Linked DNA regions of Homo sapiens: region 2 is linked to region 1. Evidence: fine-mapped expression QTL. A gene starts in region 1. The other region holds a variant in brackets. All regions are shown on one strand. Distances are from middle to middle.

Region 1 (15,071 bases):
GGCTCTAGATCTCTCCAAATAAAAGGCTTTCAGCCAACTGGATACTTGTCCTGATGACATACCTGAACGAGATGCCTTCATCAGCCTTTAAGACCCCATAATCCTGAGCAATGGTGCGCTTCGGGTCTGATACCAAAGGAATGTTCATGGGTCCCAGTCCTCCTTGTTTCTTAGGTGTATTGACCCTATGGCAAAAGGCAAACATACAGTTACATTCAAACTCTTGACTTGACTGTACGCATTCCTCTTTCCCCTTTCCCATATTCCTAATCTAACTTTCCAAAAAGACTGTTTTTTTTCCGTTTTCCAGCAATAAAGTGAATGCTGAGAACAGTTAAGGTAGGTCACTAGGGTACACTCAACTGCAATTGAAGCTGCTTCTTCTCTGCTGCCAGGTCATGAGAGCAATAAGAGAAAGTCAGACTTTGCACTCCCTTCAATGAGAAGGCAATACTTGAAAGTCTATTGCCAAAGCTTCCCAGTTGCTGTTTTAAAAGTTCACATGCCAGCCAGGTGCAGTGGCTCACACCTGTAATCCCAGCACTTTGGGAGGCTGAGGTGGGCAGATCACGAGGTCAGGAGATCAAGAACATCCTGACTAACACGGTGAAACACCGTCTCTACTGAAAATACAAAAAATTAGCCAGGTATGGTGGCAGGCGCCTGTAGTCCCAGCTACTCAGGAGGCTGAGGCAGGAGAATGGCGTGAAACTGGGAGGCAGAGCTTGAAGTGAGCGGAGATCACACCACTGCACTCCAGCCTGGGCGACAAAGCAAGACTCCATCTCAAAAAAAAAAAAAAAAAAAAAAAAGTTCACATGCCAAATAGACCAAGAGATTTACCATGCTAGATGACAGAAGTGAGAATCCACAGAAGCACCAATCACTTGGCAGTTGAGTTTCTTAAATTCTTCTGCCCTATCACTGAAAGCAATGATCTCCGTGGGGCACACAAAGGTGAAGTCAAGAGGGTAAAAGAAGAACACAACATATTTTCCTGGGGGGAAAATCGGAGTCATGGTTAGCATTTGACACAGACTTCCTTGCTTTATATTTTCCTATACAAAAAGAAGCAAGTTGATGGCTGACACAATAACCACTAACTGCCAAGATGCTCAATACAGATGTCTCCTAGAAGCTACTTTTAGAACCTGGTGCATTAGGAATACCTGAATGAAAAAAACTTCCAATCCCATACTTTATTCTCCTGCCTCCATGTCATAGCTACCAATACAGAGTAAACACTGTTCAGTCTAATTTTGATCTTTTCTGAGTGGCTAAAATTAACATAAACACCAAGTTCTCCAAAGATAGCAAAAGCAAGGATGCACTTATAAGCATGGCCTAATGCCAATGCTTAACAATACCCAGAGAAAGCTGAATTGCAGTACTCCTCTGCTGTAGAGATAAGACACCAATAAGAAGTCACAGCCTTTGCACTTCTCCCGTGATGAACCATAGTAATGGAACAAGCATGGTTTAAGTGATCACATGTGTTCCTAACGTGCCTGACAGGACAGGAAAAATTTTAAGCCAGGCACAGTGGTGCGTGTCTGTAGTCCCAGCTACTTGGGAGGCTGAGGTGGGAGGATCCCTTGACCCCAGGAGTTTGAGGCCAGCCTGGGCAACACAGCAAGACTGTCTCAAAACAACAGAAATATATATATACATATACACAGAGAGAGAGAGAGAAAGAGGGAGACAGAGAGAGACAGAAAAGACAAAAGTACTAGTGAGTAACAGAACTTCTAGCTGCAATTTTAATGAAGTCACTGGGATTAACCACTGAAATAACAGATCTTCAAACTGGCCAGGCAGCCTTCTCGCCACACCCACCAGGCTTAAATACTAGAACAATTCCAAATATTCACTCATTTCCAGGTAGCAGCAATGTTTGAAAAGTCAAACAGGCTGGGTGTGGTGGCATGGTGGCTGACGTCTGTAATCCCAGCAGTTTGGGAGGCAGTTTGGGAGGCCGAGGCGGGTGGATCACCTGAGGTCAGGAGTTCAAGACCAGGCTGACCAACATGGTAAAACATGTCTCTACTAAAAATACAAAAATTAGCTGGGTGTGACAGCGGGGGCCTGAAATCTCAGCTACTGGGGAGGCTGAGCCAGGAGAATCACTTGAACCGGGGAGATGGAGGTCGCAGTGACCTGAGATCATGCCACTGCACTACAGCCTGTGCGACAAGATCAAAATTCCACCTCAAAAAAAAAAAAAAAAAGCCAAACAAGCAGCCCTTTTTGACATTTACCACTTTGCAGTATCACTGGAAACTAACTCATCTAAACAACCCTTCCAGCTTTGCCTAACAAGCACTTTGGGGCCTCAGCAGGTCAAGCTCTGGAGGGCAGAGAACAGCTCCTCCTAGACCTCCTGCTTATACCCCTGGGCCCAGGTCACCTCCCTATGGTGCAACTTACCTTGTTTGCTGGGAGAAGCCCCAAGAACAAAGTGTGATTATGTCAGGAAACCTAGTCAAATGTTCTACCAAAAACTAACTCCAGGGACTAATGCTACACCACTGAGAAAAGGACACTTGACACCTGAGTTTCAGGTTAGCATTCTAAGGAATCTATATCCTCAACTGTCCCAGGAGATCGAGCTGCTCTGGAACTACAAGGTAAAGAAAGGAGGAGCCTCAACAGAACTTGCCAAGTGTCTGCATGAAACTATGACAACAGAGGCCGGGCGCAGTGGCTCACGCCTGTAATCCCAGAACTTTGGGAGGCCAAGGCAGGCGGATCACAAGGTCAGGAGATCGAGACCATCCTGGCAAACATGGTGAAACCCCGTCTCTACTAAAAATACAAAAAAATTAGCCAAGCATGGTTGCGGGCGCCTGTAGTCCCAGCTACTCAAGAGGCTGAGGCCTGAGAATGGCATGAACCCAGAAGGCGGAGCTTGCAGTGAGCTGAGATCGCACCACTGCACTCTAGCCTGGGCGACAAAGCGAGACTCCGTCTCAAAAAAAAAAAAAAAAAAAAAAACTATGACAACAGAAAGGAGAGTTGTTCCATCTGTAATATCAACTCTCCTCCGGGGTCAAAACAGGCAAGGGAAAGTGCCTAGCCCTCAGCCTAATATTAACAGCTGTGATATATACGTGACCCAAACAAACTGAACGAGCAGTGTCACAGCTCCAGAGATTTGAGTGAGCTCTGAGACTTTAAATGTAGAATGTCTCTTATAACAAGAGATAATGAGTATTTCTCCAATAATAAAATAGAGGAGGGCCAGAGGCAGTGGCTCACACCTGTTATCCCAGCACTTTGAAAGGCTAGGGCAGGCAGAGGGCTTGAGCCCAGGAGTTGGAGACCAGCCTGGGCAACATGGCGCCCAGCTCTACAAAAAGTACAAAAATTAAGCCAGGCGTGGTGGCTCATGCCTGTAATCCCAGCATTTTGGGACGCCGAGGTGGGCGGATCATCTGAGGTCAGGAGTTCGAGACCAGCCTGACCACCATGGAGAAACCCCGTCTCTACTAAAAATACAAAAAAAAATTAGCCAGGCATGATGGCGCATGCCTGTAATCCCAGCTACTCGGGAGGCTGAGGCAGGAGAATTGCTTGAACCTGGGCAGTGGAGGTTGTGGTGAGCCGAGATCACGCCATTGCACTCTAGCCTGGGCAACAAGAGCAAAACTCCATCTCAAAAAAAAAAAAAAAAAAAAAAAGTACAAAAATTAGCCAGGCATGGCAGCATGCCCCTACAGTCCCAGCTACTTGGGAGGCTGAGGTAGGAGGACCACCTGAGCCCAGAGAGGTAGAGGCTGCAGTGAGCCATGACTGCGCCACTGCACTCCAGCCTGGGTGACAGAATGAGACCCTGTCTCAAAAATAAAAATAAAGAAAGAAAATAGACGAGGAATACTGAAAAGATAATTGAGCTAGTATGTCCAGACATAATGAAGCATGTGGTTTCTCCAGAAGTGGTTTGGTCCTAGGATATATACCCTGTAATCACTTGATAATCACCACTTCAACATGAAGGTAACAACCTAAATACTTCTTCCTAGGAGACAAAACATTTTACAGTCAAACAACATTGACACAAATCTAACAAGCCACCCCTAGAATATAAAATAACTCCATCTCAATGAGCCCAGTGTTAATTCTCTCACCTTTGTAGTCAGACAGGCTGATATCTTTAAACTGACCATCTGGCATAACAGCTGTGGCTTTGAAGTTGGGGGCAGGGTGCCCAATTTTAGCATTTCCTGAAGACATCTTCCTATCAGCTAGAAATAACAGAAATGAATTAGAAACAAGCCTTAATTTTCTACATAACCAGCAGCCTTCACCTACTTAAAGAGACTTAGCTGTAAACAATCAAGGCATTGTCCAGTGTCCCTGAATACATTAAATGTTGTTTTAGTAAGAAGCTCCAGCCAGCAGTCAAGGGTCACAGTCTGAGCTTTCCAACTTTTGGAACGAAACAAGTCTCTGAATCTCAGCCTTTGTTTTCATTTAAAAACAGCAAGGCAATTTCTTTATATACTGAGATAACCTCTCATTCTTTCTGAACCATAATTAGTGCAGTGGCATCTTATTCATTATACAGAAGCAGAGAGAGAGGCAGATGAAGACTCTCAAACCAGAATCCAAATGCACAATGCCACAAACACTTTTGTTTGGCTCCCCAAAAGTCACGTTGACCTTTCCCATCACTGTGCCTCCACCTGCCTTCATAACATCAGAAGCATATTTGACTTTTCTCCAGGTAGCTTTGTCCAAGACAGCACACAACCTATAACTAATTCAACTTGTTTTATTTGTTTTTGTTTTGTTTTGTTTTTTTGACGGAGTTTCGCTCTTGGGGCCCAGGCTGGAATGCAATGGCATTATCTCGGCTCACTGCAACCTCCACCTCTCAGGTTCAAGGGATTCTCCTGCCTCAGCCTCCATAGTAGCTGGGATTACAGGCGCAGGCCACCACACCCGGCTAATTTTTTTGTACTTCTATTAGAGACGGGATTTCTCCATGTTGGTCAGGCTAGTCTCAAACTCCTCACCTCAGATGATTGCCCAACTCAGTCTCCCAAAATGCTGGGATTACAGGCGTGAGCCACCGCGCCCTTCCAGTCAGTCCAACTTTTAAGAGGCAAGACCACTGGGCGCAGTGTCTCACACCTGTAATCCCAGCACTTTGAGAGGCTCAGGCGGGCGGATCACCGGGTCAGGAGTTCGAGACCAGTCTGGCCAACATGGTGAAACCCCGTCTCTACTAGAAACACAAAAATTAGTCGGGCGTGGTGGTGCATGCCTGTAATCGCAACTACTCAGGAGGCTGAAGCAGGAGAATCACTTGAACCCGGGAGGCAGAGGTTGCAGTAAGCTGAGATCGCGCCACTGCACTCCAGCCTGGGCAACAGAGTGAGACTCTGTCTCCAAAAAAAAAAAAAAAAAAAAGAGGCAAGACCAAGATATTGATTGGCATCTGCTTAATTTCAAATCTTTAGGTATTGTGTAAGCCCTAGAATTCCCTTCACCATTTGTGAAGGTGGGTTCCTGACTTTGGGGCTAATATCCCAGGGCGAAAACAAGTATAAGAATCAATTTACTGCTGAAAAGGAAGGTTGCACTGGATTCACCCAGATCAACACCAAGATTAGTATTGAGATCTTGGCCAAGCGCTGTGGCTCAAGCCTGTAATCCCAGCACTTTGGGAGGCCGAGGCAGGCAGATCACCTGAGGTCAGAAGTTCGAGACCAGCCTGGCCATCATAGTGAAACCCCGTCTCTAACAAAAATACAAAAAATTAGCCGGGGGTGGTGGCACGCGCCTGCAGTCCCAGCTACTCGGGAGGCTGAGGCAGGAGAATGGCGTGAACCCGGGAGGCGGAGGCTGCAGTGAGCCGAGATCCAGCCACTGCACTCCAGCCTGGGCGACAGAGCGAGACTCCGTCTCAAAAAAAAAAAAAAAAAAAAAATACAAAAATTAGCCGGGGCTTGGTGGCACAAGCCTGTAATCCCAGCTACTCCTAAGGCTGAGGCAGAAGAATTGCTTGAATTCGGGAGACAGGGGTTGCAGTAAGCCGAGACCGCGCCACTGCACTCCAGCCTGGCCGACAGAGCGAGACTCTAGCTCAAAAAACAGAGATTTAACCCACTAAGCCGCGGTCTGAAAGCTTTTCCAAGTCCCAAAGTTCTTAGTTCACAATACCACAAGCAAAAGAAATTTTGTAAGCATGGATCTTAGCAAACTTTTAACTGTTTTTTAAAAAGTCCTTAACACCTTTAACGACAAAAAACAAAAACCAAAAACTAAGGCATGCTGCAACTTGGTGCCCCCAAATGGCCTTCTCGTCCAATCCTTCTTTCCCAAGTGGCCCCCAAGTACAAAACCCAACCAATTCGGGGTAAAGGCTGCTGGGATTCAGGCCGCCACCGGGCCCCTTCAGGGGATCTGCCCAGCGTAGAGGGCCACATCCCTAAACCCCACTTCAGGTGCCCCCTGTCCCTCCCCAGCACTGGAGAAAGCACCAGCAGAGAGAGTGCTTCAGCGGGGACATTTGGGCTCATCGCTAACTCCATTCCACGTACAGGAAAATAAAGACGGGGAAAGGGTACCCGAAGCTCCGCAGCTAGTCAAGGCTCAGGACCCGGAACAGCCAAATACATAGAGGCTGTCTTCTACAGCCACGAGTCTGGATACAGGTCCATTCCAGAAGCTTCCCGAACCCACCCCGTCCGGCAGGAGGCTAGTCTCGGAGACCCCCACCACCAGCCCGCCCAGACGCCGCGCCACGTGCTCGAGTTGCCGGGGGAAGACTCGACTCGAGTCCACGCTTGCCTTGGGGTTCAACCAGGTTCCCGCACCTACGTGGGGGGCCCACGAGAGGGGTGTGCGCAGCGCTCAAGCAGTCTCGGACTCCGGGCCTCCCCCGGCTGCCTCACGCATCACAGCACCCCCACCCGAGCGCGGGCGGGCCCCGGACAGGAGGAGGAAGAGGCAACAGGCAAGAAGGGCGCGCCGCGCCTCACTCCGCAGGGGCCGCACTGCCCACACTCACCAGTCCCAACACAAGTCGCAGAAACTAACCACCGACACCAGGCAAGAACAAGACGCGCAAGAGCTCTCCGGGGCGCTGCCTTTATAGCCAGTAGGGATCTCGCGAGAGTCGGAACGGACGGGGGTGCCGGAGGAGGAGAGAGAGGAGGGGGATGTGGCCCGAGCCCCGCCCGGCGCGCCCCGCCGGAATGACTCGGCGCTTTCCCTCGTTGGGGCGGGTGCGGAAAAATACTAATACCCCACCCTGTTGCGGATGGCTGAGGTTGGAGTGAGGCGCCCTTGTGGCCGCTCCCGAACCCGAACGCTTAGGTTAATCCTAGATCTCTGCGGAAAACCAGGATTCTCTTTACTTCCAGGACCACTACGCACTGTGCCCTCAATGCCCAAACTGGAGTAAGCGTCTTAGCTGCTGCCCACGGAGGACCACGTCTAACCACACCAAGCCATGAGAACTGTCTATCCAAATATTTCTTAAGTTCGCAGCCTTAACCCCAGCGCAGATCCTCAGTAACCCTCATGGCTTAGATAGCTTCCTTCATTGTTCTCTTTAATTACAGGGTTGCTGCTTTCTGTTGTAAAGGAAAATAAAATATCAGGACTCCTAAACTTACGCCAGAGGGAAAGTTCATCTTGGGAGGCTGATTCAGTTACACGACCATCCTCTCCCCGGATGAATAATTTGACTTTACAATCTTGAGTCAAAACATTACACATTAGCCAGACCCACACGGTAAGGCAAAAGGCCTCAGACATTTCCTGATGACTACCCCCCACAAACACACATACACAAAATCATAATTAATTATTTGCTCCCCTGGAAACCTTTAAAGTATGTAGCCTCCCATAAAACAAGGACGTGTCAATTGCAACTAGATCTACAATATAAAGTCTAGTTCCTAAAACTAAAGTTTGTTCTATTCCACATTTTTTTGAGACGGAGTCTCACTCACCCTGTCGCCCAGGCTGTAGTGCAGTGGCACGGTGTTGGCTTACTGCAACCTCCACCTCCCGGGCTCAAGCGATTCTCCCGCCTCACCTCCGGAGTGTCTGGGACTACAAGCACGCACCACCACGCCCAGCTAATTTTTTGTATTTTTAGTAGAGACGAGGTTTCATCATGTTGGCTAGGCTGGTCTCCAACGCCTGACCTCAGGTGATCCGCCCGCCTTGGCCTCCCAAAGTGCTAGGAATGTAAGCGCGAGCCACCGCACCTGGCCTCTATTCCACAAATTCCATAAATGTTCACTACTAGATTACCTTTCTACTAGACTACTTTCTACCTTTCTAGTAGTACCTTACTACTAGATTACCCTGAGTCCACCACATAATTGTTTTCTTCCTCCATTCCCTTTTTCTTCAAACATTCACCTTATCTTATGTAAAAATGTAGATTTAGGCCACCTAGGAGGGCGGATCATAAGGTCAGGAGATCGAGACCATCCTGGCCAACATGGTGAAACCCTGTCTCTGCTAAAATACAAAAACTTAGCCGAGTGTGGTGGCGCGCCTGTAGTCCTAGCTACTTGGGAGGCTGAGGCAGGGGAATCGCTTGAACCCGGAGGCAGAGGTTGCAGTGAGCCGAGAGCACCACTGCACTCCAGCCTGGCAACAGAGCAAGACTCCGTCTCAAAAAACAAAACGTAGATTTCCTGAGCATTAGCTAAAGTCTTTGCCTCAATCTTTCCCACCCCCACTTTTCAAGGAAAATGTATAAATACTAAAAACCTCCTGAGAACCTCTTGGGAAGAAACAGCCACAAAAGTGTCTGTGACATGGTTTAGTCAGTTTAGTCACTCATTTCAATTAACACTATCTCTTATCCATCCCTTCCACTGCAGCTGAAGGAAATCTTTCTGAAGTCTGATCATGTCACTGTTATTCGTGGTTTAAAAGCTGGGGAAGAAACAGCCACAAAAGTGTCTGTGACATGGTTTAGTCAGTTTAGTCACTCATTTCAATTAACACTATCTCTTATCCATCCCTTCCACTGCAGCTGAAGGAAATCTTTCTGAAGTCTGATCATGTCACTGTTATTCGTGGTTTAAAAGCTGGGGCTAAAGAAAGAAAGAAAGTAAAATTTAAAAAGAAAAGAAAAATAAAAAATAAAATAAAAGCTGAGGCTCTGTAGTCAATTTACTGAGTTAAAACTCCTCACTGTCAGGGCCGGGCGCGGTGGTTCATGTCTGTAATCCCAGCACTTTGGGAGGCTGAGGAGGGCAGATCACCTGAGGTCAGGAGTTCGAGACCAGCCTAACGTGGAGAAACCCCATCTCTACTAAAAATACAAAATTAGCCACGTGTGGTGGCGCATGTCTGTAATCCCAGCTACTCTGGAGGCTGAGGCAGGTGAATCGCTTGAATCAGGGAGGCAGAGGTTGCAGTGAGCTGAGATAGCGCCATTGCACTCCAGCCTGGGCAACAAGAGCGAAACTCTGTCTCAAAAAAAAACACACACACACAAACACAAAAACTCCTCACTGTAATTTTAGGTGTGAACTTGGGCAAGTCTTAAACTCATTAAACCTTACTTTTCTCAACTGTAAAATGGGAATAATATTAATACTTTATTGTGATTATCTATGTAGTTCAGTACAGTACTTAGTTCTTATTATAAATTAGAAATGTTAGCTGCTATTAGTATAACTCTTCCATCCTTCACACTTATAACACCCAGAACACAGTGTAGTTGTTTCAAGCCTTCAGACTTTTTTTTTTAAGATGGAATTTCGCTTTTCTTGCCCAGGCAGGAGTGCAATGGCACGACTTCTGCTCACTGCACCCTCCACCTCCAGCGTTCAAGCAATTCTCCTGCCTCAGCCTCCCAAGTAGCTGGGATTACAGGCGCCCACCACCACGCCCGGCTAATTTTTTGTATTTTTAGTAGAGACGGGGTTTCAGTATGTCAGCCAGGCTGGTCTCAAACTCCTGACCTCAGTTGATCTACCTGCCTCAGCCTCCCAAAGTGCTGGGATTACAGGAGTGAGCCACTGAGCCCGGCCGCCTTCAGACTTTTGTTTGAACCTGGAAAACTCTTTCCCTGGAGAAAACATGTCTTTCAGCATTACTTTCTCTCCGGCTGTTTCTTACCTTTACTCATTCCCAGGATTTACAATTCCCCTCCTTTGTGTCCAAACAATAGCTTGTATAGCCAAAAAAATCTTTTAAGCAATTTTAGTTTTACATTTCTTCCTCTGCCTGCTAGAGTGACTTTCTGGAGAGTAGGATGTGGGTGACATCTGTCTCTGTGTCCCCAAAGTCACAACAAAGCATCTGATATAAAATAGGAGCTCAGTCAGTGAGCATTCAATCAATAGTATCATGTTTCTGTCTCTGTCCCCAGCTCCCTCACTAACTCCCTTGGCCCTTATAGTGGGATAATGAATGAGGAAGTGCTGTCTCATGCTCATTGAGCATCTCAATTTTTGTTATTTATCATACTACTTTGCATAGACGTGATTTATTTGCTTTTTCCTTCTTTGCCTGAGGCTGAATAGTTAGTTGGCATTATTCCTTTTTTTAATTTTTATGTAACTTTTATTCTTTTTTATCAGGCAGCCACCCGAGCCAGCAGCCAGCGTAGGCTCAGAGAGACTCCCCTTTCTTTCTTGCAGGAGCAAGGGCAGCATGAAAGTTCAGAGCTTAATAATGGATGGTTATTGGCTATGGGCAGGCTAAACCAATACACAGTACATACAGTCATACTTCAGCCCAAAGAAAATTGCCACCTATTGTATTCACCATATGCCAGGCATTGGGCTGGGCACTTGAGTTTATTTTTCTAATTCAAGAACAAGGCCAGGCACGGTGGCTCATGCCTGTAATCCCAGCACTTTGGGAGGCTAAGGCGGGCAGATCACAAGGTCAGGAGTTTGAGACCAGCCTGGCCAACATGGAGAAATCCCATCTCTACTAAAAATACAAAAATTAGCTGGGTTTCGTGGTGTGCACCTGTAGTCCCAGCTACTCAGGGGGCTGAGGCAGGAGAATCTCTTGAACCCAGGAGGCGGAGGTTGCAGTGAGCCGAGATCGCGCCACTGCACTCCAGCCTGAGTGACAGAGTGAGACTCCGTCTAAAAAAAAAGAACAAAAGCCGGGCATGGTGGCTCAAGCCTGTAATCCCAGCACTTTGGGAGGCCAAGGTGGGCAGATCATGAGGTCAGTAGTTCCAGACCAGCCTGACCAACATGGTGAAAACCTGTTTCTACTAAAAATACAAAAATTAGCTGGGCGTGGTGGCAGGCACTTGCAATCCCAGCTACTCAGGAGGCTGCAGCAGGAGAATCACTTGAACCCGGGAGGCAGAGGTTTTAGTGAGCTGAGATCCCGCCACTGCACTCCAACCTGGGCAACAGAGCAAGACTCTGTCTCAAAAAAAAAAAAAAAGAAAAAAGAAAAAAAGAAAAGAAAAAAGAACTAAAAGAGAGTGGAGCACATTTGGCATGTGACTATAGTCCCAGCTACTTGGTAGGCTGAGGTGAGAGGATCACTTGAGCCCTGGAGTTTGAGCCCAGCCTAGGCAGTGCTGCAAGAACCAGTCTCTAAACAAACAAAGAAAAAAAAACAGGAAAAAAAAAGAGTTATCCTAGCCTAGAGAAATGTTAACAGTCTATCCCCTTAAGATCATAAAAGTGAAATAACTGGACAGAGTACTGAAAAAAGAAGAAATCTGTTGAACAAGTCTAAGTGATTTGTAGAGTCTCTCCAAAGGACAGTAAAGATTTCAGAACCATGGGGAGGAGGCTTTCTTGCAGGGTCTGATGTATACCTCTAGTTCTATTTTTAGATATATTCCATTGTGCTCTCTTCATTTGCTCACCATTAGCATGGGAATTATTCCCCTTGTTTTATTTATATTTGTAGTAACAAGTCTAGCACAGTAACTGGCATAGAAGTACTTAATAAATGTTACAATGTGTTGAAGACTTTTGAGATGTAGAATTAAATTATTTGAACTACGTTTCAGGAAGTTGACTCTGGAAGCTGTGTGATGAATGAATTTAGTGACTAGGAGATTAGGCAAAGAGAGCAATTGGGAGGCCACGGCAATGATCCAGACAAGAGAAGTCTCAGAACTGTAATATGACATTAGCAGCAGGGTAGAAAGAAGGAAATACAAGGTATATTTCTTCAGGCTTTAGGATTAATTGGATTTAGGATGAAAGGAAAGAGTAAATTAAATCCAGTTTCTTGGTGACATGAGTGATGTCATTAACCTGTGACATAGGAAACACTGGAAGAAAAGCAGGTTTGAGGTTTAAAATAATGTTAAACAGGCCGGGAGCGGTGGCTCACGCCTGTAATCCCAACATTTTGGGAGGCCAAGGCAGGAGGATCATCTGAGGTCAGGAGTTCGATATCAGCCTGGCCAACATGGTGAAACCCCGTCTCCACTAAAAACACAAAAATCAGCTGGGCATGGTGGTGGGCACCTGTAGTCCCAGCTACTTGGGAGGCTGAGGCAGGACAAGTGATTGAACCCGGGAGGCGGAGGTTGCAGTGAGCCAAGATGGCACCACTGCACTCCAGCCTGGATGACAAGAGCGAGACTCCATCTCAAAAAAAAAAAAAAAAATGCCGGGTGTGGTGGCTCATGCCTGTAATCTCAGCACTTTGGGAGGCCGAGGCAGGTAGATTGTCTGAGCTCAGGAGTTCAAGACCAGCCTGGGCAACATGGTGAAACCCCGTCTCTGCTAAAATACAAAAAAAAAAAAAAAAATTAACCGGGTGTGGCAGTGTGCCCCTGTAATCCCAGCTACTTGGGAGGCTGAGGCAGGAGAATTGCTTGAACCCAGGAGCAGAGGTTGCAATGAGCCAAGATCGCACCACTACACTCCAGCCTGGGCAACAGAACAAGACTCCGTCTCAAAAAAAAAAAAAAGCAGTAGTTACATCACTGCACTAATTTGCTGTGGGAGACAGTTACCTGACTCATCAACAGCCATTGTCTCTTCTTCACAGCCAACTAAATGTAAAAGGTAAGGCAATTCAATGTAAGTATAAAGCCCATGTCCCAGGACAGCAATCATTTTAACAGTAGGACTTGCTAACCTGATAGCAGCCTGCTATAAACTTATAAACCATTAAAATTAAACCTATAAACCATGAAACTAAATGCTCTCAGATAATTGTAACAACAAATGCAAAATAAAATAATGGACGCCGGGCATGGTGGTGCATGCCTGTAAAGCCAGCACTTTGGGAGACCGAGGTGGGCAGATCACTTGAGCCCAGGAATTTGAGATCAACCTGGACAACATGGCGAAACTCCATCTGTGGGGGAAAAGCAAGAGAGATCAGATTGTTACTGTGTCTGTGTAGAAAGAAGTAGACATAGGAGACTCCATTTTGTTCTGTACTAAGAAAAATTCTTCTGCCTTGAGATTCTGTTAATCTATGACCTTACCCCTAACCCCGTGCTCTCTGGAACATGTGCTGTGTCAAACTCAGGGTTAAATGGATTAAGGGCTGTGCAAGATGTGCTTTGTTAAACAGATGCTTGAAGGCAGCATGCTCCTTAAGAGTCATCACCACTCCCTAATCTCAAGTACCCAGGGACACAAACACTGCGGAAGGCTGCAGGGACCTCTGCCTAGGAAAGCCAGGTATTGTCCAAGGTTTCTCCCCATGTGATAGTCTGAAATATGGCCTCGTGGGAAGGGAAAGACCTGACCGTCCCCCAGCCCGACACCCGTAAAGGGTCTGTGCTGAGGAGGATTAGTATAAGAGGAAGGCATGCCTCTTGCAGTTGAGACAAGAGGAAGGCATCTGTCTCCTGCCCGTCCCTGGGCGATGGAATGTCTCGGTATAAAACCCGATTGTACGTTCCATCTACTGAGATAGGGAAAAACCTCCTTAAGGCTGGAGGTGGGACATGCGGGCAGCAATGCTGCTTTGTAAAGCATTGAGATGTTTATGTGTATGCATATCTAAAAGCACAGCACTTGATTCTTTACCTTGTCTATGATGCAAAGACCTTTGTTCACGTGTTTGTCTGCTGACCCTCTCCCCACAATTGTCTTGTGACCCTGACACATCCCCCTCTCCGAGAAACACCCACAAATGATCAATAAATACTAAGGGAACTCAGAGGCTGGCGGGATCCTCCATATGCTGAACGCTGGTCCCCTGGGTCCCCTTATTTCTTTCTCTATACTTTGTCTCTGTGTCTTTTTCTTTTCCAAGTCTCTCGTTCCACCTAACAAGAAACACCCACAGGTGTGGAGGGGCAACCCACCCCTTCACCATCTCCACAAAAAATAAAAAATTAGCCCAGTGTGGTGGTGTGTGCCTGTGGTCCTAACTAGTCCAGAGGCTGAGGTGGGAGGATTGCTTGAGTCCCAGAGCTCGAGGCTGCAGTGAGCCGAGATGGCACCACTGTACTCCAGCCTGGGTGACAGAGTGAGCAGAGTGAGACCCTGTCTCAAAAAATAATAAAATAAAATAATGGGAACCCAAATCACAAGACAGCACTCATTTTTCTTTTATTTATTTTATTTTTTTTGAGACAGAGTCTTGCTCTGCTGCCCAGACTGGAGTGCAGCAGCATGGTTTCGGCTCACTGCAACCTCCACCTCCTGGGTTCAAGTGATTCTTGTGCCTCAGCCTCCCAAGTAGCTGGAATTACAGGTATGTGCCACCATGCCTGACTGATTTTTGTATTTTTAATAGAGACAGGGTTACGCCATGTTGTCCAGTCTGGTTTCGAACTCCTGGTCTCAAGGGATTCACCCATCTCGGCCTCTCAAAGTACTGGGATTACAGGCTGAGTCACCACTACCGGGCTTATTTTTCATACAGATGATTTAGAATATGTTTATGTTAAATTTTTTTAGATTATCACTAAAAGAAAACAGTTGAATTCTTCAATTTACAAGGATTCAATTTTTAAAATTATATTTGAATGTACAGAGGCCTACAAATACCAATTTCAGAAACACTGTTATCAAGGATATCTATTTGTTAAAATTGAATGCAACTGAAAGTAACAGATTAACTGCAAATAACAAGCTTAACCAAATAGGGGATTAATTTTTCCCATTTAACAAGGAGACAGG
Region 2 (15,071 bases), 110 kb after region 1:
TGCCCTAGCCCATGCTAGCCCCTGCCAGACCTGCAGCTCACAGACCAAAGATACTGATGATGAGGGTGGTAGTCTGTAGAATAACCAAAAAGCAGTGTCGGAAGCCAGAGCTACAGTCCCTTTCTAGGACTTAGCCCTTTAGAGCCAGCGGCCTCTGTATACAGATGAGAAAACTTAGCAGAATGGTGGATAAGCCTCAACTGTGGCAGAGTACCAGAGTCATGATCCCCACCTACTGACCTGGGCACAGGCTGCCTGCTGGCAAGGATGGCACAGTTGCCCATGGGCCCGGGAGCAGGAGGTGGGGGCAGGCAAAGGGCTGGGGGCAACGCTGTGGTCCTTCCTGTATCCCGTCCATCGCGTGCCAAGCCAGTCCTTAGTTGCACCCAAATCCAGGAAGCCTCAAGGCCCCGCAGGAAATCATAGAAAATGACCAGGCCAGCCCTGGGGAACACAAGTCTTAGCACAGAAATACCCAACTCCTTTCAACCTCCCTCCTCTCAGGCAGGTCCCTAACCCTATCTGGTCCTAGTGGGCTCCCTTAACCAGCAGTGCTGGCCAAGTCACAGAGGCTGTCGAAGGTGGCACGGGCCTCACCCAGGATCATAGGGTGCAGGGCCCAGCATGTCCGATGTGGGCAGGAGGAAGTGTGAGTCCAGGCCCAGGTTTCTGGTCATTGTTCCAGGAAGCTGTGGCTGTGGGGAAGAGAGCTGACTCCTCCAGAAAGCCTTGTAGCTGCTCATGTTCCCCCAACTGCTCAGAGCAGAGCTGCCTCCAACCTGTTCCCCCAACCCACCCCGTGTCCTCACAGCCTTTGCCCCACCCAAGAACTGAACCTCCGAGAAGCCTGGAAGTGGTGGCAGCGGTGGTGCCACCGGTGGCGGGAGGAGTGGGGGATCTCTCCTCCCCTTCGGTTGTAGGCTGGCATCCCCCAGGAGTCGCAGATCCTGGGGCCCTAGGAGCAGAAGAGTTAGGGTGCCCCTAAGTTGGACAAAGCAGGTAATTAGCTGAGATACCCCTCCCCCAAGAGTTGGGCCCACAAATGGGTTGGCGGAGCCCTGTGGATACAGGGATACACACGTGCAGACATGAACTAGGGGAGTCACAAACACGGGTCTTGTTCCCCATGCACTGTCTGCCTGAGCCAGGCCTGCTGGGGAGAGATAAGTGGGATGGGATAGGGTTGGGGTGCTCACTGACCCAAGGGTGCCCGACCCCTCTGCATTTGCAAGGCCAAGATTTCTGCCTCCAAGCGCCGGTTTTCAGCCTCCACTACTGGAAGCTCCCCTGAGGTGGCACCTGCCCTTCCTGCGATGAACAAGTGTGACCTGTCACCTTTGACCTCTGGTGACTGGCCGCGTCCGGCTGTGAGCAGCTCTCCAGCGCTAAGGCTCTTCGGATAAGGCTGGACTTGTCAGCTCACATGCCATCCACAGCCACAGGCCCTCCCTCGAGTTCTTTTCTCCTCCCAGGACTGACCACCGCTGGCGAGAGGCCCTCCTGTTCACCTCTGCGGGTCTGCGACCGCTGCAGCTCCAGTGCAGACGCCTCCACCTGCAACTGCCATATCTGGCCCAGCACGCCGGGGTCCCGGCCCCCGTCTCGAATGTAGGCCTCCCGCAGCGCCCTAGGGAGTGGGGAACAGGAAGGCCGTCTTTCCAGAACTGCTCAGCGCTTCGCCCTATGCCCATCTCCGGCCCCGGCTCTCACCGGATTTCGGCAGCCAGAGTTCCCGGGTTGGCCTTTTGCACTGGAGAATAAAGTTCTGCCTCTCGCCGGGAGCTCAGCGGGTTCCTGGGGTGGCAGGCGACGCGCAGGGAGACGGTAACGCATCAGAGGCCCCGGGGCTGCAGCCAGCCCGCCCCTCCCACCCCGGAGCCGCATGTTCCGGGGATCCGCTTAGTCGGGTCTCACCCTGGCTCCGCCTGCAGCTCCTGAATGCGGGCCCCCAACACCTCTAGAGCTCCCCGCGTCCTCCCGGCCTCAGCTTGTAGTTCTCGAATCTCCTGCTCCAGGCCGAAGAGGCGGGACATCCCGCCCCGCGTACAGGCCACAACTTGGAGGCGTCGGCTCAGTTCTGAGGGAATGCGGGCCGAGTCAGAACCGGCCCGAGCAAGCTTAAGCCAAACGGCGAGGGCAGAGGAGGTCCTTGGTCCCCGTCCCCCATCTCCTTCACCCTCGCCGCGTAGCTGCAGGGCCCGGCTCTGCGCTTCCATCTCCGCCACGCGCCTCGCGCGAGTCCTGAACAGCGCCCGCAGCCGCTCGCTGGGGCTTCCCACCGCCTCGGACATGGGACTCTGAGGCCGCGCCTCGGAACGTGTCCAGGGCCCCGCGAACACCCTGGGGACCTCTGTTATCCAGGGCCGCATTTCCTGTAGGGATAGCCGCAGCCACTGCACCTGGAGGTAACAGCGATCCGCGATCTCTGCGTGGGCAGAATCTGTCCCAAGTATGATCTACAGGTTTGGGGAAGACGCTCAACGTTTTGAGCCCTGGGGGAAGGTAGGTAGCTCTACCTCCTCTGTTAACCTCTTTAGAGCAGATCTACTGGCCTGCTGGTCTGGGAGGCCCTGGGGTTCTTGTGGCACGCCCTGGTGTTCTTGTGGCACAACCTGGGGATAGGGTGTAGTAGGATGAGGAATCATAAAGGTCCTGGCTCCTTTGAATCCCCACCCATGGCCATGGAGGCCCTTACCGCGGCCCGCTGGGGTTCAGTGGCAACTGATGCCTGTGCTCCAAATGTCATCTCTTGGGTCGGGTGGCCAATGCAGAAGCGCTGAGTATGGGTGGCTAACAGAGCTGAGGAGCGGAAAACCATGTCACAGGTCCCACAGGGCAGGAGCGCAGGCTCCCCAGAGTGGGAGTCCATGGGATGGGACCCGTTTCCTGAAACCAGCCAAGACCTGCAGAAGGGATCAAGGGCAGGGGAAAGGCAGAGGAGGATGAAAGAGACATAAAGCCAGAGGCAGAGAGGAAAGGCCGTGTCTATTAGGTCTGTGAGATCTTCAAGTTTGTTTGGGGAGAGCCTTAGCTCCCTGGACAGCAACCACAGGGCTGGGCAGGTCAGGAGAATGGGTGGGGAAACCTCGGCCGTTTGGGAGGAGCCACTGGCTTGAAAAAGTGTTACAAAGTCTGAACGTGGGCAAGTCTCTAATTGTAGCTTGGTTTCCCTGACTATTAATAAAGAGGAAAAAGCAGCTGCCTCCTAGACTAGGCTGGGCCCTTATCACTTACTACATCATTGGTCATTTAATAGCCTCTAAAAGGCAAGTGTCATCTTTTTCATTGCTGTACTCCCAAGTGGATGTAACAGTTTGTACCATTCTCCAATCCAGAGAACTACCTGGCAAAGGAGGCACTCTGACCTTTCCAGCATTCTGCCTGGAAACCATGTCGCACCAGGGATAGCAGTCTCCCTAACTCCCATTCCCTGATTCCTCATTTTTCAGCTGTAGACGAAGATAATCAGCACAGCCCAAGAAATGAAAGCTGTGGGCGAACAGAATGAATCTATCAGATGAGGGAATCAAGTCCAGAAAAAAACCCCTTCTCTCTCCCAAGATTGGCCAGAAGCCAGAAAGACCCTGAACTGTTGGTGAAATTCTTCACTCCACTCCCACTCCCAAAATATATGGAGGAGCTCTGAGGTGACCGCATATTTCTTAAGAAACCCTCTTTACTTTTTTTTTTTTCTTTTTGAGATGGAGTCTCGCTGTCGCCCAGGCCGAAGTGCAGTGGCGCGATCTCAGCTCACTGCAATGAGCTCTGCCTCCTGGGTTCACGCCATTCTCCTGCCTCAGCCTCCCAAGTAGCTGAGACTACAGGTGCCCACCACCACGCTTGGCTCATTTTTTGTATTTTTTAGTAGAGACGGGGTTTCACCATGTTAGCCAGGATGGTCTTGATCTCCTGACCTCGTGATCTGCCCGCCTTGGCCTCCCAAAGTGCTGGGATTACAGGCGTAAGGCACTGCGCCCGGCCAAGAAACACCCTTTTCTCTTCTTTTTTTGAGACAGTCTCGCTCTGTTGCCCAGGCTACAGTGCAATGGCACGATCTCGGCTCACTGCAAGCTCTGCCTCCCAGGTTGACACCATTCTCCTGCCTCAGCCTCCCCAGTAGCTGGGACTACA[G/T]GCACCTGCCACCACACCCGGCTTTTTTTTTTTTTTTTTTTTAGACGGAGTCTCGCTCTTTCGCCCAGGCCGAAGTGCAGTGGCACTATCTGGGCTCACTGCAAGCTCCGCCTTCCGGGTTCAAGCCATTCTCCTGCCTCAGCCTCCCGAGTAGCTGAGACTACAGGTGCCCACCACTGTGCCCGGCTAATTTTTTTTGTATTTTTAGTAGAGATGGGGTTTCACCGTGTCAGCCAGGATGGTCTTGATCTCCTGACCTTGTGATCCGCCCGCCTCGGCGTGCCAAAGTGCTGAGATTACAGGCGTGAGCCACTGCGCCCAGCCTTATGCCTGGCTAATTTTTTGTATTTTTAGTAGAGACGGGGTTTCACAGTGTTAGCCAGGATGGTCTCGATCTCCTGACCTCGTGATTCCCCCGCCTCGGCCTCCCAAAGTGCTGGGATTACAGGTGTGAGCCACCATGCCTGGCCGAAACTCCCTTTTCTAAACAAGACAGGGACTTAAGACATTTCCCTACTCAGTACCTAAAGCCAAGGTATGACCCACCAGCAGCAAGTTACAAAGTGTTCAAAGTATGTCATCTCAGTTCAGCTTAATTCCAACTGACATAAAGAGTACATTTTTAGAAATATGTTCTCAGAAAACAAGTAAATGGCAAAGCCCAAATCAAAACCTCCTTTTCAACAACTAAGTTTGTCCCAATTTTCAATGGTTAAGACTTTTGACTGGTTGACTTTACAATGGTGCAACAGTGATAGGCATTCAGTAGAAATACTACTACCATTTTTTTTTTTTTTCCCTCAAGAGACAGCTTGTAGTTCTCTAATCTCCTGCTCTAGGCCGAAGAGGCGGGAGCAGGACTGTCATCCAGGCTGGATTGTAGTGGTGCCATCATGGCTCACTGTAGCCCTGAACTGCCTTGGAATCAAGCAATCCTCCTGCCTTAGCCTCCCAAGAAGCTGGGACTACAAGTGTGTGCTACCACGTGGACCTGTCTATTTTGTTTCTGTTTTTGAGACAGAGTCTTGCTCTGTTGCCCAGGCTGGAGTGCAATGGTGCAGTATGGGCTCACTGCAACCTCTGCCTCCTGGGCTCAAGCAATTCTCCTGCCTCAGCCTCCTAAATAGTTAGGATTACAGGTGCTTGCTGCCATGCCTGGTTGTTTTTTTTTTTTTTTTTTTTTGAGACAGAGTCTCACTCTTTCTCCCAGGCTGGAGTGCAGTGGCGCTATCTCAGCTCACTGCAAGCTCTGCCTCCTGGGTTCACGCCAATCTCCTGCCTCAGCCTCCCGAGTAGCTGGGACTACAGGCGCCCGCCACCATGCCTGGCTAATTTTTTGTATTTTCAGTGGAGATGGGGTTTCACCATGTTAGCCAGGCTGGTCTCGAACTCCTGACCTCAGGTGATTCACCCGCTTCAGCCTCCCAAAGTGCTGGGATTACAGGCGTGAGCCACGCCTGGCTGGACCTGACCATTTTAATGTTTTTGTTTTTTATAGAGACAGGTCACTGTGTTGCCCAGGCTGGTCTTGAACCCCTGTCCTTTTCTTACATCACTGTCTATTCTCTCCCCTACTGGGCTGGGCACTCCTTGCATCCTCAGAGCCTTGCATAATGCCTGGGACATACAACACGGGCTTAGAAAGTATTTGTTGAATGGGCCGGGTGCGGTGGCTCACGCCTGTAATCCCAGAACTTTGGGAGGCCGAGGTGGGTGGATCACAAGATCAGGAGATCGAGACCATCCTGGCAAACACGGTGAAACCCCATCTCTACTAAAAATACAAAAAATGAGCCAGGCGTGGTGGCAGGCGCCTGTAGTCCCAGCTACTCAGGAGGCTGAGGCAGGAGAATGGTGGGAACCCGGGAGGCGGAGCTTACAGTGAGCTGAGATCGCTACTGCACTCCAGCCTGGGTGACACAGTGAGACTCCGTCTCAAAAAAAAAAAAAAAGTATTTGTTGAATGAAAAAACCTGCTTCCTTCACTAGCCATTCAGCTACCATCGTCCAACTCTCCCCCAACCCCCACTCCAAGTTCTTATTTAGTAGGAAAACAGAACAGACTTCCCTTAAAATACGTACACTGGTAAATACATGGGCACTAAAAAACAGTTTCAGGAAAAAAAAAAAACTTGGTTTCTGACTTTATTACTGGTAATTTATTGCACAGGTTTTTCTGCATCAAAAAAGTATCTGCTAAAATAGAGAAACAGTTGTGTCTGAATTCACATTTCCCCCCAACTTCTAAAAATATTTCCCCTAAAAAAGAATCCACTCATCTAATTTTAAAGAAAATATACTTCTTACACAAGACAATCCAAACTGATGCAAAATATTTATTCCAAGTTAGTTATTTTATGCAGTAGTTTCCCCCTCGAGACTTGTGATAACCACATCTTTTAAATCTGTAAATAATGTTATCAAAATAATCTTAATCTTTGAAATCTCACAAAAATTTATATTTTACAATCCACCCTGAATATCAAGGCTGCAAGAATAACACAACATTTCCTATATCCAAATATTTTACAGCTGTACCCAAAAAGGAAAAAGAAAAAAAAAACAAAAAAAAACAACCAAAAAAACCCACATATGCTTGGTTAAGGGCTAAAGTTACCCGAGCAGCCAAAAATAAAATAAAATATCCAAATTATTAGCATTAATTTAATACAATTATAACTTCAATAGTCACTTTGTCATTGACAATGATTGCTTGATCACAGGGGTGAGTGCCCCAAGGGCTGGTAGTAGAAGCTGTTGCTGCAGACCAGTGTCTCCTCTTCCCTGCACTGCCAGCTCCTACCTGTGCATCGCCCCATATATACTGGGTGTGTATGTGTGTGTGTGTGTGAGTGTGTTTAAAAAATCTGTCCCACCACACAAACTTCTCTCTATAAAGCAGATAACAGGGAAGAACAATAACAAAAGCAAAACAAGCCAATTGCTCTCTCTTTGGGATATGATTATTTCCCTTGTGAATGAAGTATTCAACAACATAAGAAAAGGAAAAGAACGATTTCTTTTGTATACTCCCTAAACACACAGAGTTTACTGGGTCAGATTTAACTGTGAGCATTTATATGCCTACTTCCAGGCATCGTCATCTGATGTTTCACTGCTACTGGTTTCGGTGTCTGAGTCCTCAAACTCTGCTTTGCAAGTGCTTCTCCAAGGGGAGAACAGACTGGAACTGCGGCTCTGCAAGAAGCCATTCTTTCCAAAGCCATTTCTTCTCAGCTATGGTTAGCATGGGAGAGAAAGAAAAAAGAAAAAAATATCAATGACTGTACTGACCCATAAGCCCTGGGAAAGGCCAGGCCTCAATTCAATTCTAGGTAGAATGTGGGGCGGGGGGTGCTTCTAAGAGACCCTCTGAGATCTCTTATACCAGTACTTTTCAAATTTTAATTTACGAGTCATCTACGCATCTTTCAAAAATGCAGATTCAGATTCAGAATGTCTGGGATGGGGCTTGAAAGTCCTTATTTCTTTTTATTTATTTATTTTTTTGAGACGGAATCTCGCTCTGTCACCCAGGCTAGAGTGCAATGGCACAATCTTGGCTCACTGCATCCTCCGCCTCCTGGGTTCAAGCGATTCTCCTGCCTCAGCCTCCCAAGTAGCTTGGATTACAGGCGCACACCACCACGCCTAGTTAATTTTTGTATTTTTAGTAGAGATGGGGCTTCACCATATTGGCCAGTATGCTCTTGAGCTCCTGACCTCGTCATCTGCCTGCCTCGGCCTCCCAAAGTGTTGGGATTACAGGCGTGAGCCACTGTGCCCAGCCATAAGTCCTTATTTCTAACAGAGTTCTAAGTGGCAAGGTCTCACATCAGCTTGTGCCATGCCCCTTTTAAGGACTTGGCCAATTGTGCTGTAAATACAGGCCACCAGAAGTTCAAGGATTTTTATAGAAACCCCATTTGTCTTGTTCACCCTAAGATCTAGCAGTGTTTTATTCAGAGAAAGAATCCAAGCAACTGCTGGATAAACTGACACAAGCTATTTAGCTTCTTAGCTCTGGCCAGAGGACCAGGAAACTACAGTGCAGATCAGGAAGCAGAGGAAGGTGAACCTGCTTCCTTAAAGACCAAGAGCTCAGACCATAGCTCTGGAACACAGCCTTGTGGTTCTGATAAGGAGTTAGAGCTGTTAGGATGAAAGAGCATACTATTTTTTGGAATCTGCTAATCACTGACACTTGGTTTTTGTATATAACACTGGGGATCCTTATTTCCCAGGCAGATTTAGGGGCCCCACTACATTTCTACTAAGGTAATCCCCCCCCCCCCCACCCGATCTTTCTCTCACATTAAACTTGCTCCCTCAGGGCAAGAACTGTCTTGACTCCTTATTCTCCTGGTTACTAACTGGTCTCTAGGAAGAAGGTTTACAACATACCTGCTCTGTCTTCATGTGGAACTCTTTGAGCTCATCCTCTGTGAGGGGAAGGCAATTCTCATCATTTTCAGGATATTCCTGCCAACCCATAGCTTTCAATAACCTGGTGGACGCAGAAGGACAGGTAAAGAGAATACAACATCACTAAGCCTAAGTGAACAGCCCACCACTTTTCACAGAAAAGTTTTCTGCCCAGGGGCAATGGATGTTAAAGAAGGAATTTTGTTTTCCTCCCTGTGGGACAAGCTTTAATTGTGGCTACCTGGGTGCTGTAAATAAATGGAGGCTCTTCACAGTTGAGAGAGGAAGAGCTAAAGAAGAGACAGTAGAAGCAAAACCAAGACAGTGTAAGGAAGAAAGAGAGCACTTGCAGTCTGGCTTTTTTTTTTTTTTGGGATGGAGTCTCACTCTGTCACCCAGGCTGAAGTGCAGTGGTACAATCTCAGCTCACTGCAACCTCCGCCTCCCGGGTTCAAGCCATTCTCCCGTCCCAGCCTCCCTAGTAGCTGGAATTACAGGCGCACACTACCATGCCCAGCTACTTTTTGTATTTTTGGTAGAGACAGGGTTTCGCCATGTTGGCCAAGCTGGTCTCAAACTCTTGACCTTGACTGATCCACCCACCTCAGCCTCCCAAAGTGCTGGGATTACAGGCATGAGCCACTGCGCCCGGCCTGAAGTTAAAAGTATTAAAGTATTGGAGAGTAGATTGTGGAAAAGATGGCTGAGTTTGAGAGAGAATGCTTGATGAGCAACAGGCCAACCTGGGGCATACACAGAGAACAAGTTATGACTGGGCCACTTCTCTCTGCATGTGGGACCTATCTATCTGAGATATCTTCTCCAGTATGTTCAAGGTCCTTAAAGGTCAGACACTGCATGCCCTGTGATGTCCTCCTCACTTACCTGTGCTCTGCTTCTAGAGAGTGTGAGAGAACCTCCCCTTCTTCCACTACAGGGAGGGCAAGACCATTTTGATGACAGCCTTCCTCCCCATTTTCCTTTGGTTCAGGTGTGCTGTTGTCCTCCAACTGCAATAAGGAAAAGGAAGGACACAGTTGGTTTAAGGTTCCTTTGTAGTAATATAAGCAACCTATGAAATCAAGGACTCACGACCCAGGAAGTGTTTTCCAAAAGACAGCCTCAGCCCACAGATTTTTTTCCCCATTTACAAATGAGGACCTGCTGCATCAACAAAACTGATTCTAAAGTTTTAATGAAAAGGCAAAAGATCCAGAACAGCCAACACAATACTGAAGAATAAAACCAGAGTACTGATATTACCTGACATCAAGACTTACCACAAAAGCTGGAGTAATTAAAACAGTATGGTAACAGTGCTCATAAGAGGTGTGGGGGGAAAAAGTGTGGTACTGGCAGAAGATGACACAAATAGTCCAATGGGACAGAACAGAGAGCCCACAAATAGACAACTGATCTTTGACAAAGGAAATACAATGGAGAAAAGATAGTCTTTTCAACAAATGGTGAGGGAACAATTGGACAGCCACACTAAAAAAAAAAAAATCAATCTAAACAAAGACCTTACAGCCGTCACAAAAATAAAGTCAAAATGGGTCACAGACCTAAATGTAAAACACAAAACTATAAAACTCCTATAAGGATAACATAAAAGAAAACTTAGATTACCTTGGGTATGACATTTATTTATTTATTTATTTGTTTATTTACTTACTTATTTTTGGAGATCAAGTCTCACTCTGTTGCTCAGGCTGGAGTGCAGTGGCGCGATCTCGGCTCACTGCAACCCCCGCCTCCCATGTTCAAGTGATTCTCATGCCTCAGCCTCCCATGTAGCTGTGACTATGGGTGCATGCTACCATGCCCGGCTAATTTTTCTGTTTTTAGTAGGAACGGGGTTTCGCCAGGTTGGCCAGGCTGGTCTCAAACTCCTGACCTCAGGTGATCCGCCCACCTCAGCCAACCAAAGTGTTGGGATTATAGGTTTGAGCCACCGTGACTGGCCTACAATTAATTAGGCTGGATTTCATTAAAATAAAAAAAATTTCTGCTTTGCAAAACACTCTGTCAAGAGAATTAAAAGACAGTGTAGTTGCTCACACCTGTAATCCTAGCACTTTCGGAGGCCAAAGGTGGGAGGACTGCTTGAGTCTAGGAGTTTAACACCAGCCTGAGCAACATAGCAAGAAGCTATCTCTGTACCAAACAAAATATTAGCCAGGCATGGTGGCACAAGCCTATAGTCCCAGCTACTCGGGAGGCTGAGGCTGAGGCATAGCTTGAGGAGGGGAGGTCGAGGCTGCAGTGAACTGTGATCATTAATGCCACTGCATTCAGCCTGGGCGACAGAGTGAGACACTGTCTCAAAAACAAATATGGCCGGCTGGGCATGGCAGCTCATGCCTGTAATCCCAGCATTTTGGGAGGCTGAGGTGGGTGGATTACCTGAGGTCTGGAATCCGAGACCAGCCTGACCAACATGGTGAAACCTTGTCTCTACTACATACAAAAAAAATTCCAGAAAATAGTATACTCTTTCATCCTCACAGGTCTAATTCCTTATCAGAACCACAAGGCTGTGTTCCAGAGTTATGGTCTGAGCTCTTGGTCTTCAAGGAAGCAGGTTGGCCTTCCTCTGCCTCTTGTTCTGCACTGTAGTTTCCTGGTCCTCTGGCCAGAGCTAAGAAGCTAAATAACGTGTGTCATGTGGTGGCACATGCCTGTAATCCCAGCTACTTGGGAGGCTGAGGCAGGAGAACTGCTTGAACCTGGAAGGCGGTGGTTGCAGTAAGCTGAGATTGCTCCATTGCACTCCAGCCTGGGCAACAGAGTGAAACTCCATCTCAAAAAATAAAGTAATACAAATAAATAAATATGGCCACATGTGGTGGCTTATGCCTTTAATCCTAGCACTTTGGGAGGCTGAGACAGGCAGAACACTTGAGGCCAGGAGTTCAAGACCAGCCTGGCCAACATGACGAAACTCCATCTCTACTAAGAATACAAAAATTAGCTGGGCGTGGTGGCGGGTGCCTGTAATCCCAGCTACTCAGGAAGCTGAGGCAGGAGAATCGCTTGAACCCGGGAAGCGGAGGTTGCAATGAGCCCAGATCGTGCCACTGCACTCCAGTCTGGGTGATAAGAGCCAGACTCTGTCTCAAAATAAATAAATAAGAAAGAATGAAGAGTCAAATCACAGACTTGGAGAAACTGTAGTCAAAGACACATCTAATAAAGGACTATTAACTAAGATATACAAAGAACTCTAAGAACTCTTAAAACTTAGCAATAAGAAAACAGACAACCTCATTAAAAAATGGGTAAGGGACCTGAACAAACACATCAACAAAGAAGATACATAGATGGATGCTCCACATGATATGTCATCATGGAAGTGCAAATTAAAACTACACACCTATCAGGAGGGCCAAAATCCAGAACACTGATAATATCGAATACTGGTGAGGAGGTGTAGCAACAGAAATTCTCATTTATTGCTGGTGGGAATGCAAAATGGCACAACCACTTTGGAAGACAGTTTGGTGGTTTCCTGACAAGCTAAACATGCTCTTACCATATGATCCAGCAATTGCGCTCCTTGGTATTTACCCAAAGGAGTTGAACTTATGCCAGCACAAAAACCTGCACATGGATGTTTACTGCAGTTTTATTCATAGTTGCCAACACTTGGAAGCAACCAAGATGTACTTCAATAGGTGAGTGATTACTAAAATAAACCCGAATTTAACATTTTTGCTGAAAAAAGGATTAAACTCACTTTACTATGTGGTCTAGAAGGCAGTTACACCTACAGACAGTATCTCTGTACATTTAAAAATCTTGCCACATCTTTATCCTTTAAGAAGAAGAAATCACGTATGTATCAAAGGAAAATTCCTAGGCTACCCCCAGAAAAGGCGGATGCTCTTACATCTTCCAGCTTGTCACAGTCTCTATTCTCTGAGAAGTCTCCATTCCGGTCATCCTTCAGAGTTTTCAGGAACTCACTCTTCCTGTCGGTGGTTCGGCGGGTCAACTTGGTCAGACGAGAGGAGCTGATCTCAATTGGAGGGGTGGTGCTGGAGGGACTCTGGGCAAATACCACAAACAGGTTGCTCCTGACAGCAAAGAGCAAGAACTGGGGTTCTCTTCTACTAAGTGCTGACTTCAAGAATCTGGTAGCCTATTTATCACTCTGTCTTAAACCAAACAATCCTTTTATTTAAGCAGTTCAAACTTCAGTTTTGCAGGGTTTATATAGTTAAGAGCAGCTGGCTTACATGGCACCTCTTTGATCTTTCTACAGACATCAGCAGAATGCCAGTCTAACATAGGATGACCTTGGTCCACCACAGAGCATCTATCCCATTTAGCCACTGCCCACTTTTGGATGCTAACAGAAAACATCAATAAAGAAACTATTCTCAGCTAAATATAGCTACAAAACAAGTGTCACAGCTATACATATTACACTTGTTATCTAAGTGAACGGGAAATGGCAATTTCAGAAAAGACTGTCCTGCTTCATCCTCACTCACCTCTTTGGGAGAACTCAGAGCTGCACCACTAGCCAGTACCACTGGTTTGGTAACAGAGATTGGACTGGTAAAAGCAGACTCCCGGCTAGAGGAAAGGGATCCTGACTTGTGCTCCATCCTGTTAGCTTTCCATGCATTAGGCTACACAGGGTGAAAGAACAAATCAGTCAGAACAAGCACACAAACAGAAGCTCAGCTTATAAAATCATAAAGCAAAGAGTGAAATGTTACATGAGAACATAAGTTTCCAGGGCTTACCTGTCTTAACATGTTTGGGAAGTATGCAACCTCTTTCGGAGGTTAGGCACTTCAAGGAAAATGGTAGATGGGATACAGAAGAGCCATTGGACATTAATAGTGACTTCCCAAAAACAGGGCTCTAGTTCAATAGTTCAATGAGTTTGGGAGGTGCCGGGGTGAAAAAAGTTCAACAAGGTTCTTCACTGTGCAATTTCTCAAAGCACTTAACTGCACATAAGAATTTGAGAGGCAGTTATGCAGCATTTTCCTAATTTATTGAATCCCAAAACTTTTTTTAGTAGTGTTTGTTAACTTTGGATGTAATCCTGATAGCCCACAAAGTGCATCACAAAATTGCTGCTTTCCAGGAACTCTGATGGCAAAAGGCTAGTTCCAGGCCAGGGTGGCTATTGTAAATGGTTGAACAATCCTGATTTATTTAGTCTGGAGGCCCGTCTACTCAACTCTGCAGGGTCTGGGCCCATTCTGTCACTCTGGCCATAACCCCAAGTATGATAGAAAGCTGGAATACTGAGTTACCACACTGTCCAAGGAGACCAAGGAAGATGTGGCAAGCCAGTGGAGTGGTGCTGAAGCAAATGAAAAACTTCCAACTTATTTTTCCAGAATGAAACACTTAGAACAGAGGACCTCCAGGACAAAGGGGCCTGAGTGAAATGGATTCCCTTCCTGGTTGCTTTCTTGATTGATGGGTATTAAAAGAAGACACAATAATAGCTTTAGGAAAGGAATTAACTTTACTATCTACCATGTACCAGGTGATGGTCAGTCTGTTTTATTTAATTCTTAAACCAATCAGGAATAATAATTGTTACGCTGACTTTTAATAGAGGATGACACTGACAATAAGGAAGTTCCACAATTTGTTCAAGGTTATTCAGCTAGTAAATGAAACCACCTTTCCACTATCCCAAAATGCCTCCACAAAGAACAAGCAAGCAGATAAGAGAAACGATGACCCAACCAGAATGAAGATTAATTTTTTTCTTGCATTGATAAAAATCTAAAGATGGTTGCTTGTGTCAGGTTAACTCTCAAAGATGATTTGTGGCTTCCCCTGAGTTGTAGTCACCAGATGTCCTGTCTTTAAAACAATGTCACTCCAGAGCACAGAAACACTTGGGTTTCTGCCACAGTAGTACAAAAGATTTACTCTGTTACATAAAACAGAATATCTATGTCTGTGCCAATTTTATTTCAACTTAATTTTCAGTAACTTAAACCCTATGAGATAGCTAGACTACCCCCTGGAAAAATCATTATGCCCCACACCTGTTTTTATTAGATGATTATACATGTAAAAGTCCATTAAAGTGAATTGTATAACCAGTTTTTTTTGTTGTTGTTTTTTAAATGTTCTCTCCTTTTCCTCTAAATTCTGAATCAACCCTAGCTTGCTCCACTTCAGAATCTTCTTCTACTGGACTAAAAATTCTAAAATCACTGGGCTCAAACTTTCTCCCACCTCCTCTGCCGTTTGCCCCTCAAGTTCAAAGGAATGTCCTCCTCCCTTTCTAGCACTTTCTTCTCTTTCCTTTTGGGTTTATCAAATATGCTAATCCACCTTATTGAAATTAGGAGAAAAAGGCCAGACTTCTTATTTTCCCTCAATCTTATATACCACCTTCTTATTGCCAAACTTCTGAGTAAGTCAGTATACATTATCTTTCACTCGTTCATTAACTATTTACTGCTTAGTTCCCTGCAATACTCACCTCTATCCCCAATTTTAGTAAAACTCTTTCATAAATAACC

Alleles and levels. Alleles are on the strand shown, and positions count from the first base shown. SD is a standard deviation of normalised expression in the study named.
For the expression in subcutaneous fat of the gene that starts at base 7,074 in region 1, T is the low allele of the variant in region 2 and G is the other (large effect, 1.0 SD a copy in TwinsUK).

What was found. PIP is the estimated chance that this variant, and not a neighbour inherited with it, causes the effect. A credible set is the group of variants that fine-mapping cannot tell apart.
Region 2: its variant is the best candidate, but not a certain one, in a credible set for the expression of PRDX1 in subcutaneous fat (TwinsUK, PIP 0.51).

What each region holds. Positions count from the first base shown.
Region 1 is chr1:45,514,811-45,529,881 of GRCh38, forward strand. It overlaps PRDX1 (peroxiredoxin 1), which reads right to left and starts at 7,074. Exons shown (of 6, transcript NM_181697.3): 1 at 7,019-7,074; 2 at 4,128-4,244; 3 at 844-997; 4 at 63-185. The coding sequence starts at 4,233. RefSeq lists a silencer at 6,268-6,430 and enhancers at 7,473-7,552, 12,244-12,752.
Region 2 is chr1:45,621,041-45,636,111 of GRCh38, forward strand. CCDC17 (coiled-coil domain containing 17) reads right to left here and starts at 3,014. Exons shown (of 13, transcript NM_001114938.3): 1 at 2,696-3,014; 2 at 2,517-2,612; 3 at 2,177-2,399; 4 at 1,915-2,077; 5 at 1,711-1,794; 6 at 1,509-1,627; 7 at 1,201-1,308; 8 at 837-955; 9 at 598-695; 10 at 241-444; 11 at 1-73. The coding sequence starts at 2,869. It overlaps GPBP1L1 (GC-rich promoter binding protein 1 like 1), which reads right to left. Exons shown (of 13, transcript NM_021639.5): 9 at 13,056-13,196; 10 at 12,449-12,607; 11 at 9,442-9,566; 12 at 8,536-8,638; 13 at 6,264-7,368. The coding sequence ends at 7,216. The variant G/T (reference allele first, on the strand shown) is at 4,132.